2 separate regions of the Homo sapiens genome follow, and region 2 is linked to region 1. A link means that fine-mapping ties the variant in region 1 to the expression of a gene that starts in the linked region. Tissue or cell type: whole blood. Region 1 holds a variant in brackets; the other region holds the start of a gene. All regions are shown on one strand. Distances are from middle to middle.

The links. PIP is the estimated chance that this variant, and not a neighbour inherited with it, causes the effect.
Region 2: it holds the start of CMKLR1, and the variant in region 1 is fine-mapped to the expression of CMKLR1 in whole blood (TOPMed, PIP above 0.99). The same link has a PIP of 0.9 or more in monocytes.

What each region holds. Positions count from the first base shown.
Region 1 is chr12:108,309,420-108,317,745 of GRCh38, forward strand. The region is part of intron 2 of CMKLR1 (chemerin chemokine-like receptor 1); the gene reads right to left. Among named protein-coding and RNA genes, the nearest start is that of CMKLR1, 26 kb to the right of the region's middle. RefSeq lists silencers at 6,713-7,007, 7,113-7,407 and an enhancer at 7,123-7,641. The variant G/A (reference allele first, on the strand shown) is at 4,387.
Region 2 is chr12:108,334,405-108,342,730 of GRCh38, forward strand. It overlaps CMKLR1 (chemerin chemokine-like receptor 1), which reads right to left and starts at 4,907. Exons shown (of 4, transcript NM_001142343.2): 1 at 4,623-4,907. RefSeq lists an enhancer at 4,340-4,963 and a silencer at 5,071-5,190.

The DNA.
Region 1 (8,326 bases):
GGGAACAGCAGATGCAAAGGCAGGAGGATCGCTTGAGCCCAGCAGCTTAGGGCTGCAGTGAGCTATGATTGCACCACTACACTCCAACCTGGGTGACAGGGTGAGACCTCCATCTCCAAAAAAAAAAAAAGCCAGTAGTGGGCAACGTCTAAGGGTCACACTCCTTGCCAAATGCTGTGGGAGTAAGATGGCCCAGTCACTACCTTCATGCAGAGAAAGTGGTTGCAGGAACAGATCGTGGCACAGTCAGTATTCTGAGATGTCACCTAAATTCCAGGCTTCCAGCAAACTGGCCATGCTGGGCTTGCATTACAGAACAGGGGTTATCCACAGTCCCCACCCCTCCCTATTGTTCCCTGGGGTAATAAGCCAGTTGCAATTTGCCATTGAGTTTGTCCAGGGTCTCTGCTGTGGCAGAAATAAGTGCAATCCAGTGAGAGAAAGAGGAACCAAGTCATTCTCATTTTCAGCTTTCATAGGAGAGCACGTATGTCTTTGTGGACATGAAAAATGTTCATAAATGGGTCATTTGGGTCTCCTGCCTGGCCCTGTTGGTCACTGAGTGTGTGGCCCTGGCTCTGCACAAAGTAAAGAGAAAGGGCTGGGGAAATCAGGGGATGCTTCCTGGAGGAGGTGGCATTTGAGCTGAGCCTTGGAGGGTATGAAGCCTTTGCCAGGTGGAGCAGCCGAGGGAAATGACATACCTGCAGAGGAACAGAGGCTTGAAAAAGTGTGGTTAGGGGCTGTGTGTGTGTGTGTGTGTGTGTGTGTGTGTGTGTTAGGGGAGGGGAGAAGGCAGGAGATGTGGCTAAGGAAAGAAGAGGGTTTCAGATTGTGAGATCCCTGCAAGCCATCAACTTTATCCTATGGGCAATAGGGAGCCATGGATGGTTTTAAGCAGAGGGTATCATCCTTCTAAAAAGATTCCAGCTTCTAACCTGGGTGGCTGATGTGGGCACTGCGTTGGAAGAGGAAAGGCTGGAGGCAGGAGAATAGCAAGAGGCCTGGTGAACTGAGGATCCTTCTGCCAGTTCCAGGCCTACCCAGAAAGTGCAGTTTTTGGAGGCTCCAGGCATCAGGATGTCCCATCAGAGAGCCAGGAAGCCAAGCAATCTCTTTATTTTTCTTAAGGATTTTTCCTCAGCCCACAGGGACTGGTTTGCTTCCAGAGCCATTTCCATGGCAACCACCAATGCTCCAAGAAAGGTCTTGAGTGAGCGGAGGAGTGAGGACCAGAGATACTCAGATGGGTCTTCACGGGAAAAGCCAGGTCACAGAGAAGGGCCCATACTGTCCAGTCCTGGGGGCTGGGAGCCATCTTCCCCCGGAGTCCATGATGCCACAGATAAGCTATGGTTGCCATGGTAACACCGAGTCCCCCATCCCCGGGCCTCATGGACCCAGGGCCTTTCAGCAAGGCGGGTAGGCAGAGACAGGAGGGAGGCAGTGCTGAGGGGCAGCCAGAACCTGCAGCTCACCAGGGAGGCACATCCCAGGACACGTGTGTGAGGCAGGTAAGTTCGAAGACCGCCCCCCCACCCCCCGCCCAGGAGATGAGCAGGGTGCAGATGAAGGAGCAGTCAGCAGTCTCTGGGGTCTGGTGCTGGGGTTCTGGAAAGGCATCCCCCACTGCAAATTGATGCCAGATACACACTGCTGCTATGCCTTCAATTCCACCATCAGGGTCCTGCTTTCAACTTTTCCCCAGTGAACTGAAGTCAATGTCGTGATGACGATGGAGAAGCAGAGGCCCACACACAAAGGAGGTTTTTGGCCACAGTTATACAGCAAAATGGCGTCAGGACTGGGGCTCAGATGCCAAAACCATTCCTACTATGTCAGATCCAGTTAGTGGTTGACATGAATGTGTGTATGTGTGCGTGTGAGATATTAACACTTAAAAGTGCTAGGGAGACTGGGCACAGTGGCTCATGCCTGTAATCCCAGCACTTTGGGAGGCTGAGGCGGGAGGGTCACTTATAGCCAGGAGTACAACACCAGCTTGGGCATCATAGAGAGACCCTGCCTCTAGGGGAAAAAATTTTAATTTAAAAATTTAGCCAAGTGTGGTGACACACACCTTTTAGTCCCAGCTACTCAGGAGGCTAAGGTGGGAGGCTCGCTTGAGCCCAGGAAGTCGAGGCTGCAGTGAGCTATGATTGCACCACTGCGCTCCAGCCTGGGTGACAGAGCAAGACTTTGCCTCCTAAAAAGAAAAAAAGTGCCAGGGAAAGGACGCTAAGGGGAAAAGGCAGCATAGAGGGGGAGAGCTGGTGGAGGCAAGAGGCAACAGGAGGAAGGGTGGGCCACTGAGCATGGGCATTAGCCTCCCTTCCCCTTGGACAACCCAAGTGAAGTCAGCGACCCCTGACCCAGGACAGGGCTGCAGGACTCATGGGAAGCCCCAGGCTGGGGGCACGGAAGGACTGCTGGGGGGACCTCAGAGGCCAAGTCCTTCCAAACCAACCTGCTCCCTGTGCTTAAGGAGCCCAGTACCCCGAGCATGGTTCAAAGCACCTGGGCCTCTGCTCTTGCAGGTCCCTCTGCCTGGGGTGTGCTTTCCACAAGCATCCCCTTGCTTCTCCCAGCCTCATGTGCACAAATCCAGGCAGAGCAAACAGCAAGGTGACAAGAGGAAAGAGACCCATCCTGTTACGTGCCAGGCACCTAGCTGTGAGCTTGACACCCCCTCATCTCCTTGTGTCCTGACAATCCATCTTCCCCCTGGCCTGAGGACATTACCTCCATTTCACAGATGTTGAAACTGAGGCTGTAAAAGGAACCAGATCAGGATCGCCAGCCAGTGCCCAGTGGAACCAGGACTTGAACTCAGATCTGTGAGAACTCAAAGCATCTATGCCCTTATCACAGCATTTCCAAGCATCGTGGATGGGCTGACAGGCCCCTTTCATCACAAGACTGTGAAACGTGTCCAGGCAGCATTCCTTCCTCTCCCTAGGACTTCCCTTACAGCCTACCAGCACGGCTTCTCCATGGGGAAGAGCCCTCACCCACTGCCTGTCACAGGGTCCTGGGGTGCAGCTATGGGGTGAGAGGAACCAAAACTGAGAGTCTGGGGCTCATGGAATCCACCCCCTGCTTATTAGGCACAGACGGCATACTCAGTGCCTCCACTCACAACAAACCTTCGAGGTAGATATTTTCATTCCCATTTTTCAGATGTGGAAATCAAGCCATAGAGAAGCAAGGGCACTGGCCCAAGATCTCACAGTAGGAAGGGGCAGAGGAGAGATCTGAATCTGCACTGCCTGACTCTGGAGTCCAGGTCTTCAGTGACGGTCACTGTCCTTTATGTTCTGTGGCTTGCCTGCTGCACACGGGGCCCTGTGATCTCATATCAGTTGTCCCCACCTGTGCAACTTCCGCACCTTGCACATTCACAATGCTACCTCACTGACTTGGGGTACTTAGAGACTCCAAATCACCCCCCTCTGCACAGTCTCCACAGGCTGGCCAGACTCCCAGGGCAGGGAGTCTGTAGAGGCCTGTCCAGCCACATGGAGCTTTGAAAAATCCCAGAGCCCTGAGCTGCCCCAGGGTCCTCCTGCCTAGGCTGCCAGCCACGAGCACAGAGGCCTTGGAGTGCTCAGGCAGGCTCTGGCCCCTTGGAATTCCCTGGCTCCAGCCCAAGCAGCTGACAAATGGACTGGCACCACTGCCAGCAATCAGGACGGTGGAGTATGAGATCCCACCCTGTTCCCAGGCACAGGGAAGGAGGGGCAGGCTGCCCTTCCTTTTGACCCTGTCACCAGGCTGTCACCTCTCCCAAGGCAAAGCCCAAGCCTTGACCTAGGAGGGGTCTTGCTGGAAAAATTGCCCCCCACCCTACCCCACCCCACCTTCCATGGAAAACAAAAAGCTGCTCGAAGACCAGAGGAAATTCTAGAATCCTAAAAGTCATTGCTAGAGAGGCTTTAGGATCAAGGGGTCTCACACCCTCATCTTACAGGAAAAGGGAAGTGGCTCAGTGCAGCTGACAGCTTAAGCCTCACTCAGTTACAGCAAATCCACATGTGAATCCCAGCTTGGCCCTTCCCATGCTATGTAATCTTGGATTACTAAATCACAGACTCCTCGTCTGTAAAGGGGGTCAATGTAAAGATTTCATGAGATCATATACGTAGGGTGCATAGGGTGACCAGTTGTCCTGGTTTGCCAGAAACCAAGGGGTGTCCTGGGATGCAGAATGTAAAGTGCTCAAACTGGAATGTCCCAGCCAATCAGGGCCCGCTGGTCACTCTATGAACATGAAGAGACTGGCTCAAACAAACATGCCCTTTGGCTGTTATGTTTAAAGAGAGCTATGTCTGGAGTCAGCTATCAGTGAGTTTGAAACCCCCACCAGTAGAACTTCTAGAAAGACTT[G/A]TCAAGTCATTGGAAAGCTCTTCCTTTTTTTCACTACACTGACCTTGAGCAAACTGCCACATTCGTGTCAGTGTTGGTTTAGGCCCCTGGAGTCACACAGGACAAGCCAGCCACCTCCCTCCCCAGGCAGCAGCCACTTCCTCCCTTTAATCTCCGCCAGCACTTCCTCTGCATCATTCTTAACCCTTTGCCAGCCGACCCCCACCAGGCCAACTGAGCTGCTCTCCTGGGTTGGGGAGGGGTGCCACAATATGGTTTTGCTTGCAGGTTTGTCGATTTTTTATTTTTGTTCACTTAATTATTGGCGTGATGCAGCTGTGGATGGTGGGAGGTTCAAAAGAGGCTCACTTATACAGGGAACATAAATTAAAGTAAAAGAAGGAAGGGAAACATGTGTAGAGACAGAAAATGGAGTCACGGCTAAGGGTGAAATGCAGGGGACACAGAAGTTCCTAGACACTGACAGTGGCTGGACCATACACTGGAACCCCAGCTTCCTGAAAGGGGGACCCAGTTACATGAGTCACATGCTCCTTGCTAAAAACCAAACCCACTCAGGGGAATAGTAAGGCTTCCTGATGCTAGGAGCAGAAGGACTGTCTCCAGAAGCCTGTGGAGAGAAGACATGGGGGATCTGATCACGGAACGGGGTCTCCAGTTCCTGAATGTTTTAAGGGAGGCTCCAAACACTCACTGATGGACAGCACTGCCCCAAACTGCAATTCAGTAAAAGCTGCTTTTCCTAGATATGACTGTGAGTTTCAGTCTACACATCCAGGTGTATGCACTGCTGGTGTAATCCAAAGAATTTTCTAGAATATCTGAGAAGGGGCCTGAACCGTGGCCTTTAAGTCATTCTCCCTGATGTTTTTTCAGAACTGAAGCTTTGGTAGCAGTAGCAGTGATAAGTGGGACACTACTCTTTCTTTTTTCCCCCTCCCTTTTTAAAATTTTATTATTTTAATTTTTGGAGATGAGGTCTTGCTATATTGCCCAAGCTGGTCTTGAATTTCTGGCCTCAAGCTATCCTCCCACTTTGCTTCCCAAAGTGCTGGGCTTACCATCATGTTCCATCATGCCCAGCCCGAGGGACATCATTCTCTATGGCCCAGGCTCGAACACAGCCTTGTTTTTTTTTTTTTTTTTTTTGAGACGGAGTTTTGCTCTTGTTGCCCAGGCTGGAGTGCAATGGCGCAATCTCAGCTCACCGCAATATCCACCTCCCAGGTTCAATCGATTCTCCTGCTTCAGCCTCCCAAGTAGCTGAGATTACAGGCATGCGCCACCACACCTGGCTGATTTTGTATTTTTAGCAGTGATGGGGTTTCTCCATGTTGGTCAGGCTGGTCTCAGGTGATCCACCTGCCTCGGCCTCCCAAAGTGCTGGGATTACAGGTGTGAGCCACTGCACCCAGCCCAAACACAGTCTTTCTCCACACCAGCTGGGGGTGGGCCTGGGGCATCCTTATACTCACCTATCTGTGAACATATTTTATGAAACAGACAATCATGACAAAGACATACTTGATACACAGGTAGAGTGACCCTCCATCCTGGCTTGCCCACAACAATCCCTGTTTATGCTTCTTGTCATGTTCCTTTCATTCTCAAAGTGCCCCAGTCAGGACAATAAATCCTACAGTTTCCCTACTCATAGATTACTCCCTCCTCTGGCCTAGAAGCTCCTGTGTACTAGCCTTGCCCACCTACTTGTGCCAGGCCCTAAGCTAAGCACACGTCCTGTGTCATTAAATTCCCATAAGGGTCCTGTGAGGCAGGTACCACCATGATCCCCATTTGACAGATGAGAAAATGGAGGCTCAGAAAGGCTGTGGCTGCTGTTTCAGGAGGTAGCCATGTGCCAGGAACTTTCCAGGATTTAAACACCAGCTGGTTCTGCACAGATGGCTACTTTCACTACCTCTATTTTCCAGATGCAAAGACTGAGCCTTAGTTCACTGATAAAAGGGTGGCTTACCAAAGCCCCTATGGTTTCAGCCAGGAAAGGACCACAGAATGTCCAAATTTCAGAGTCAGCTTCCTTCAATCCGGGCTCATGAGCTGTGGGTCCCTGGGCAAGTGACATGGCCTCTCTGAGCCTTGATTTATCTCATTGGTAAAATGAAGATGAATCTTGCTGCTTACTGTTGGGTGAGTGAGGAGCAGACGCAGGACCAGCACTTGGACCCTGCGCCTCAGCCCAGCTCTTACAGCTCTAAGAGGAGGGGATGTGTTCCCCCCAGGAAGTTCATAATCCTCAGCAGAAACAGTGCATACTTCATGGAGTCACTGCAAAATGAAAATGCAGCCCCTTATTCAAAAATTACTGAGAATTCAGGACAGCAACTGCCAAGTGTTAAACAAAGCACAGGCCTTCTGAGCCCTGTGTGGCTGCACTGGTCGCCAGCCTGAGATGCTGGCCCTGCCCCTCAGCTCTAGGGAATTTGAGGGAAGAGCCCTCTTCACTTCAGGCCCCAGCAGGGCAGGGGCTCGGCGGGATAGGTGATCTTAGGAGGGAGGAAGAAGCAGCACAGCCAAGAAAGAGCAGAGAGAACAGAGGATGACACCTCCTCAACGTAGACAGAAAGAGAGGGGGAAGAGGGGCAGGGAGAGGAAAGCCAGCAGGAAGAGGAGAGACGCACAGGGACTGGAAAAAGGAGGACAGAGCGGTCAGGGCAAAGCAGCAAAGTGGCAGAAGAAAGACGAAGGCAGGGTGAAGAAAGTCCCCAGGAAGAGAGACCCAGAGGCAAGAAGAAAGGGACAAGGCTAAAAGGAGTCTTCTGCCAACCTCTGAGAAGGTTTAACAAGACCCCATGGAGCCACCCGGTGTGGGCAGGGAGGGGCCCCATGAATAGCTGTCCTCCTGGGGTGAGGGCCATTTGCTATTGCATTTGCATACATTTAAAAGCACAGGAAAGGCAGTGCTGGGGATTTCCAAAATCCCCAAAGATCAGGGAGCTACGGGCAAGGTGTCAACCCCATAGCAGAAATGGGTGGGGCTTTTGCTTTGGGATGGAAAGCCACAGGCACCGGTTGGAACCGCCAGTGGGAGCTCAATCACAGCTCACTGCAGCCTCAACCTCCCTGGGCTCAAGTGATCCTCCCACTTCAGCCTCCTGAGTAGCTAGGACTACTACAGGCATACACCACCACACCCCACTAATTTTTTTTGTATTTTGTAGAGATGGGGTTTCGCCATGTTGGCCAAGCTGGTCTCCAACTCCTGGACTCAAGTGATCCACCCACCTCAGCCTTCCAAAGGGCTGGGAATACAGGCATGAGCCACTGTACCCAGCCTCAATGTCATTGGTTGATTTTAACAGGAAAAGGTGTGATTTAACACACAGCCTGTTTGGTGGTGGGCTGGAGGCAGTGTTTGGGAAGGTCCTGGCAGACACAAGATGAGCTGAAAGCCATCCCAAGCAGTTCTCTTCATTGAGCATGGGTTTCAGTCATTATGTGCTCTAGAGGTTCTCTTCATCCATGGTTATTAGTGTCAAGGAGAGCCCACAAGAACGCATTGTTTTCCCTACAAACATTTCACCAAGAGCTTGGAATGAAATGGCAGGTCCACTATGAGACATAGGTATTGACTACCCATGGCCTCAGGAGGCCACCAGGAGTGCATCACGGTCATGAGGATGATGTGGACACTGGAGGGAGGGGTGGGCTCTGTGTAAACCCCACAGGACTCTCTCAGCTGGTTCAAAGTGGGCCAAAGGTGGCCTCATTCTGACATCAAGGAAAGCCGTAGTCAGCTGGGCAATAAATCCAGCTAGTTTGAAAACTCCAAATGTGCTTATGTCACAATCAAGGAGAAAATAGGAATGAAAACCACGGGCCTTAGAATTTACAACACACATACTATTCACATAATAACACTGTTAGCCTAACAGCCATCCATCCACAATTCTAATAGGCTTTTTGAATTTAAATTGCT
Region 2 (8,326 bases), 25 kb after region 1:
GTGTCTTCCAGGACCACACAACACCCTCATGCACTGTCCCTTCTCTTTTACACAGCCAGTGGCTGTAATACTTGGTCACACTGTACTTCTTCACCCCAGGACCTAGGACAACCACCCAGCTGCCTTACAGTCAGCAGCCTTGGCCCATTCTGGGGAGTTTGAGCATGATTCCTGAGCTTTCACTTCCCTCATGCCCAGCCCTGGGGGAGCCCAGCCCAAGGAAAATCCCGACTCTAACCACACCATGTACACGTACATGAACACCAACATTCAAATGTGCAGTGGGGCCCTAGGACAGGAATAAGATGTTTTTCGTTCAAATCCCATTCTTTTGCTATGAGCTGTGTGACCTTAGGCAAGTCCCTTTAGCTCTCTGAGCCTCATTTTATTCACCTATAAAATGGGGATGATAGTCCTGAGGCCTTTCCATGTAGGCTTGTAGGGAGATTCAAGTAGATAATGGATATAAATACCTTTGGCTTAATAACCCGCAGCATGTTCTATCAAACCATTATTCTTATTTCCTTTTTCCAGGGGGAAAAGAGAATGGCAGTTGCCTATGTTTCAGAAAAATCCATGTTTAGGGGCCTGGAGTCTGGAAATTTACTTAGTATATTTGATGGGAATTACCTTGAGGATAGGTGATGTTGTGAGTCCAACATCACCATGTTAACTAAGATTGACTAATGGAAATGTAGACTTAGAATCAAAGAATGGAAGCAACCCAAGAGGTCACCACATTTGTGACAGAGACAGGTAGCTGTCCACAAAAATTCATTCTCCCTGTCCACAATACACGACTGTGGCTGGGAAAGAGCTGCTCTTTGCCAAGAACCTCATATCCTTGTAACTCCATGTCCTGGCCTCCTTTGCAACTAGATTGGCCACATGATAGTTCTCATGTGAGTGGAAGTCATGTCTGCTGCTTCCAGGCCAAAGCAGATAAGCAAATATGCCACCTCCATACTTTCTTTTGTCTTGTGCACCTGGCTGCAGACAATGAGGATATCTGAGGAGAGAGTGGGACCACCAGATGAGTCACTGAAGTACCATGAGGAAGAGGACCACCCTCCATTCAGAAATACTTGCCTTATAATAAAGCTCTGCTTTGCTTCAGCCCTTATGCCTTTGGGGACCTATTTGTTACTGCAGCTACTACCCTAGCTGATATACCATTCGACCTCCTTATTTACAGATGAAATTATTGTGGCCAAAGAGTAAGAGTGCCTTGCCAAGGTCACACAGTAAGCTCAACAAATGTCTAGAACTTTGGTCTCTTAACTCCTTGGAGTAGAGGAGTTGCAGTTTCCTGCCTGCCCCATGGAGCTACAAAGATTCTTAGAGGCCCTTCAGCAACAAGAGTGAGATTTAGTGGCAGCCTGGAGTCTTCCACCTCTGTTTCAACAAGAATAACACCACCTTTATCTGTTTTCAAATTACACTTCCCCATAAGACTTTCATTTGTGGAAAGGATTCTGCAACTGAAAATAATTTCAAAGCCTCCATGCTGGGGGATTGCTAACACGATCTGACTTTCTGTGGTACTATAAGACAAAGTTTCGCTTCTTCTCTGCCAAACCTTCTGGCCTCAACTGCTGACACGGAACATGTGGATTCACAGAAGTACATGAATATTTGCTTAGAAGGGAAAAAAGAAACCTTATTGTGCAGCAAAGAACCCAAGACCCCAGTGTGAACAAAGGGCAAAAAGGAAAGACTTTTAAGCACTCTAGGTTGGTAGTTCTCAAGTTTTGGGGTGCATCTGAATGACCTGGGGTGCTGGTTCAACATGCAGACACTGAAGCCTCATCCACAGAGATTCTGATTTCCAAACTGAAGCTTTAAGAAACACTCACAATTGGCCGGGCGCAGTGGCTCACGCCTGTAATCCCAGCACTTTTGGAGGCCGAGGTGGGTGGATCACAAGGTCAGGAGATTGAGACCATCCTGGCTAATACGGTGAAACCCCGTCTCTACTAAAAATACAAAAAATTAGCCGGGCGGGGTGGTGGGTGCCTGTAGTCGCAGCTACTTGGGAGGCTGAGGCAGGAGAATGGCGTGAACCCGGGAGGCAGAGCTTGCAGTGAGCCAAGATTGCGCCACTGTACTCCAGCCTGGGCGACAGAGCGAGACTCCATCTCCAGGAAAAAAAAAAAAAAGAAACACTCACAATTATTCTAATGCAGGTGGTCTAGAGATTGCACTTTGAGAAGCTCTGAGTCTACTTCATAGCCTCGCAACTGGCGGTAATGTCTGCACCCATGTGGTGTAGCTCAAAGAGAATGAAATAAGCTTTTGGTTTTCTTGTACATCAGTGGGAATAAGAGCATTAATAATCCACTAAAGAAATCAATAATAATTTCCATTTGGCTCAGATGAGTGTCACAGGTATAGACAGGCACAGTGGAATAGAAATGATCATCAGAACAATAGCTAATGTTTATAGAGACCTTATTTTACAACAAATCCTCTGCTTACAGCTTTACTTGTATGATCTCATTTACTCTTTAGAATAATCTTATGAGGCAGTTACTGATCATATTCCCATTTTATAGATGAGGAAACTCAGGCACAAAGATGAGGAATAACTGATTCCATGTCACTCAGTTGGCAGGTGGCAGGCCAATTCAAGCCCACCCCCAGAGTGATAATAATATCAAATAATATCATCCTTATTTACAGATGATATTATTGTGGCCAGAGAGTGGGAGTACCTTGCCTAAGACCAAGGTGCCCCTTCTTGCACAATGTTCTACTCCCTTTTGTGGGGAGGTCTAGCATCAGAACTCTCCAGGCTTCTGTTTCCTAATCTGTAAAATGGGCATGTTAATAGTACCTTCATCATGTGGCCATGGTGAGGATTTGATAAAATCATCTCGAGAAAGTGGTTTGCAAACTGAGAGGAGTTATTAGGTAAACATCTAAGAGATGGGACTTCAGTCCAACTTCCCCCACCCCATTTTACAGATGGTGAAACTGACACCTGGTTACTTTATTTATTCCATGAACAATGACCCTAATATATGCTAGTTCTTGTGCAGGGGACTGAGGATGCAGAAAAAAAGTAATATCCCAGATCTGGCCTCTAGGGGCCTCCCGGCTAGAAGGAGAGACAGACAAGATGACTGGTCATTAGAACACGGTGTGGTAGGAGCCGTGATAAGGGAGGGATAGGCCCTGGGAGAGCCTAGCAGACAAGCCCTGACCCAGTGCGGGTAGGGGACTTCTCAGAACAAGTCAAGCCAGAGAAAGGCATGACTTGCCCAAAGTTAAGGTTATCTGTTCCCTGAAGTTTTGGGGGAGTCCAAAGAAGGCCCCTGTGCATCAAGAGATAACTCTCCTGTGGACCTCCCAAGTGTATGACACATCATCATTTGAGTGCCACTGGTTTAGGTTAAAGAAAAGGCCAAGCTGCCTCCTCCTGCACCAGAGGCCTGAATGACCCAGTCACACTCACCTCAGCAGCCAAGGCATTTAGAGGAATCTTACCTTCAAACCAGTTTGGAAGGGGCAGGAGATACAGCAAGAACCACAGAGAAGATTGGTCTTGAGAAGGAGGTAGGGGATGCAAAAGGGAAGTTGAGGGCTTTCCCTAATAGAAAAAGAAAGACTCAGAACCTGGACGTTCAGGCGTGTGACCTCAGACCAGTGATCTGGCATCTCTGAACCGCACAGGTCTGAGTGATTGGGCTTATATCAAGTAGTAGTTCCCTGATGTTGTAATGCTTATAATTTTGCCAAAGCTGGCTTGCCCATTTAAAATGGGCTATTCTGAAGACAGAGGAGGGAGTGGAATATTTTCAACAGAGAGTGCCGGCAAAGGTTTTGTGTCCTTTATATACAAAGAACCCTTAGATATCAATTGGAAAAAGATAAACATGCCCCCAGAGGAGAAAAAAATGGGAACAGACTTGAACAGGAGAGTCAGACTAGAAATGTGAAAAATAAGTTTATAAAAGAGAATCAACACTAACAAAGAAATGAAATGCCTATTGAAGCATCTAGATATTATTCTCGACTTCACATCAGGGAAAGTTTAAGGGATGGGTAGCAACAAGGTGGGTTTAGTATGTGAGAATACTGTGCCCTGGTATAACATCGTAGAGAGGTCAAGCTGCCACGGCCTTCCAGGGTGCAGTGTGACCAAAAGCTCAGAAGTCTTAAAAATAGGCAAACCTTAAATCTAGCAATTTCTAAAAGGTATTCATAAGACACACACACAAAGATGTCATACTAAATATTCATTGCAGCACTGTTCTAATAAAAAAAAAGAAGCAAATCTATTATGGAAAAGTCAAATAATCTTAAGATAGCCTTTCTATGCAGCCATGAAAAATGTATATTGGAAGAATATAGGTGATATGGAAAAAAGTTCACAATCTGTGGTTAAGCAGGTTACCAAACTAGATGTGGAAATCCACATTCATATATTTAGTTGTGTATCCTTGCTATTTCTTTAAACAATGAACATGCATTACTTTTGACATCTGAAAATAATAACAAAACTCTTCCTTTTAACAAATATGAAATTATAAAAAGAAACAAACTTTTCTCTCTGTTAGTATTCATTCCCCTTCCCTGGCCCCCCTCAGAAGACACCCAAGGCAAGTGTGTGATGATACCTTCCCTCTGGTCTCTGCCCGGAAGGTCTTCCTGAGGGTTCCCTGTGACTGCAGGCCACTCGAGGCTGTTGGGGAGACTTGCACACCCTGGCTTCTTTCTGCCAATCACAGGCTCCTCTGGCTGTGGCTGTTTGCCCAGAAAGCAGTTCATTCATTTGTTCATTCAAGATCCCCCTCTGAACCCCCAGAGCGCCGCAGCTGGAACACCCCTATCACCCGGAGGCTTCCCAGGGAGCCTGCTCTGTCCTGAGCTCCCTGCTGGCCGCCGGGGCTGCTTCCCTGAATGGGACTGGGACAGAACTCAGCCAGAGAAACAGCTGGAGGGAGGAGAGCAGGAGGGAGGGGCAGGAAACTGGGCTGACCTAGGGCGGGGGCGGCTAGCTGCGTGGAGAGGGGGCTGCGAGGGGAGGGTGCCCCTACCAGCCGGGGACTGGGCTTGTGGGTGGCGGCGGGGGCCCGCTGGGGACGACCCGCCCCTCTGGCAGCCTCTTGCAGCCGGGGAGCCGTGCCCACTGAGCGCAAACAGGGAGCACATCTGAGCACCCGGCTGCTGGGGGAAGTGCAAGCGCCTCTGCTCCCGGTGAGGGGCTCAAGCTCCACACTGACCGAGAGATTGGCTGCCTCTCACCCTGGGCCTTTGCAACGCTGTTCCTCCCACCTGGATGCTATTCCTGCCCTAATTCGTGGCCCGATGGTCTCCTACTGCCTCTTCAGGTCTCAGGTTGAAGGTCACCTCCCAGGGAAGCCTTCCCCAACCCTCGGGGGCTGCTGTGCCCCTCAGGGTCACCCCATCACCTCACTGATGCAGTGCTGTCCTTGCCTGTTAAGATGTCTCTCTCCTTGCACCGAGAACTCCTTGCACCAGGAACTCTGTAGGGAAAGAACTGTATTCTGTTCCCTGCCCTAACCAGGCGCTAAGTGCCTGGTTCATCGGCTGTGTGGTCACCATCATTAGTGGAATAATCAAAACAACCGACAGCCAGGCAGCGTGCTAGGCGATGCGTACTTACTCTTCACGGCAACCCTAGATAACAGGAATTATTACTACTCCAGTCTTACCAATAAGGAAACTGGGGTACAGAGAGATTAAGTCACTTGCTCAAGACCACACCGCCAGCAGCTGACAGAGCTGGGATTCCAACTATGTTGTCTGGCTCGGAGGCCCACCCTTGGCCTCCAGACTGAAGAAATAACAGAAGTGCCCATGTGGGCCCCTGTGCCAAGTGCTTCCATGGAGTAAGCCGTGTGAACCACCACCCACGTCGGGGGGGCATCACTTGCCCATTCTACACATGAGGATGCTAGGGCCACAGAGCAGAAGTCGTTTTGCCCAGGGCGCCAAGCTCATGCTGACCGAGCCATGGCTGGATCTGAGTCTGTCTGATTCCAAAGCCAAGACTGCCTACGACTGCCTAAAATAATATTTTTAGAAAGAAAAAGAAAAGGGAAGGGCAGGGGAGGGGAAGAGAGGGGAAGGGAGGAGAAGAAAGAAAGGAAGAAAAGGGAGGGCAGGGAGGAAGGTAATGGGGAGGAGGGGAAGGTGAAGGGAGAGGGAGATGGGGAGGGAGGGAGAGAAGGAGAGAAACCTGTGTTTTGGGCCTCAAAGTCTTGGGCAGGTGGAGGACTATGTCCTCATCGTCTGATCAGCCTTAGAACCCCACCGACCTCTCCCCACCATCCTCAATCCTTTAATTCAGTGAGCTTTACACTTAGAAACCATCTAATTTCATTCTTCCATTTCACAGATAACTTGAAGCCCAGAGAGATTGAGTCTCTTGCCTGAGGTCACACAGGTCTCTATAGTCAGAAGTCAGGCCCAGTCTACCCAACTGTCTTCCTTGCTCTCTTCTTCTTTGGGCTTATCTAGGGAACAAAACATCATATCGAAACACTTACTGTACAGATGAGAACACTGAACCCAGAGGAGGCAAGGGACTCACCCAAGGTCACCCAGAAGTTAGTAATTGTATTGGTCCGTTCTCACACTGCTGTGAAGAAATACCCAAGACTGGGTAATTTATAAAGAAAAAAGGTTTAATTGACTCACATTTTCGCATAGCAGGGGAGGCCTCAGGAAACTTACAATCATGATGGAAGGTACCTCTTCACAGGGTGGCAGGAGAGACAATGAGTGCCAGGCAAAGGGGGAAGCCTCTTATAAAACCATCAGATTTCATGAGAACTCACTCACTATCATGAGAACAGGATGGGGGGAAAACCACCCCCATGTTCAATTACCTCCCACCTGGTCCCTCCCATGACTCGTGAGGATTATGGAATTCCAATTCAAGATGAGATTTGGGTCGGGACACAAAGCCAAATCATGTCATTCCCCAGGTTCTCCTGGTGAAAGGAGAGGATATTTCCATAACGTGGCAGGGATCTTGTATATCACCATCTAATAGAGACCAGAGGTTCCTAAAGTCTAGTTTCCATACCAACCCCAGCAGCCTCACCCAGAAGTTTGTTAGAAACACAAACCCTTGGGCCTCACTGCAGACCTTGGCAATCAGAGACTCCAGGAAGCCATCTGGGTTTTAAGAAGCCCTCCAGGGGATTCTGATGCTTGCTCAAGTTTGAGATCCACTGACATAGGCATTTCAATTAGGAATCCATTGAAATGGGCCCTGGAACAAGTCACCTTGCCAATGCACAGAATAGTGGCTAAGAACAGAGGCTTTGATAGCAGACGGACCTGGTTTGAATTCCTGTCGCTGTCACTGTAAGCTGTGTGACTTGGGCAAGGCCTTTCACCTTTGGAGTCTCAGTTTCCTCATCTGCTGTGGACAGTGGAAGAGGAAGAGGAGGAAGAGGGAAAGGGAGGAGGGAGAGGAAAAGAGGAGGAGGGAAAAAGGAGAGGAGGAGGAGGGAAAGAGGAGAGGAGGAGGAGGAAAAAGGAGGGGCCAAGTAGAGGAGAGGGGAGGGGGAGGAGGAGGAGGGAAAGGGAGGAGGGATATGAAAAGAGGAGGAGGGAAGAGGAGCGGAGGAGGAGGGAAGAGAAAGAAAGGGGAGGAGGAGAGGGTGGGGGAGGAGGAGACGAGGAGGAGGGAGTAAGGAGGAGGAGGGAAAGGGAGGAAGGAGATGAAAAGAGGAGGAGGAAGGAGGAAGAGAGGAGGAGGAGGGAAGAGGAGGGGTCAAGGGGAGGAGAGGGGAGAGGGAGGAGGAGAAGAGGGGGAGGGGGTAAGGAGGAGGAGGGAAAGGGAGGAGGGAGATGAAAAGAGGAAAAAGAGGGAAGAGGAGAGGAGGAGGGAAGAGGAAGAAAGGGGAGGAGGGGGTCAGAAGGAGGAAGGGGGAAAGAGAAGAAGGGGAGGAAAGGGAGATAAAGGAGAGGGGAGGAGAAGAAGGAGTGGGGGAGAGGAGGGAGAGTGGGAGAGAAGAGAAGGAGGCCAGAAGGCAGCCTTCGAGGAAGATCAAGCACACGGGTACTATGGAAGAGGAGCTGGGTAAATCCAGCCCGGGGATGGACTCCTGGACATGCCTCTTCCTCCCTGGAGGTGGCTGTGGCTGTGGCATGCCTCCCTCTGCCTCTGGCCTCCCAGCCAAACCTAAGCTCGGGTCTCATCAGCTAGGAGCCACAACTGGCAGAGCAAGGACACTGGTCCCCCAGCCAGCTGGGTCCCTGGGTGGCTGGCAGAGGAGGTGGGAACCCACAGCCCCACTGGGCCAGTGAGGAAGGCGTGGGGCTGCCTGGCTTATGACTCTCC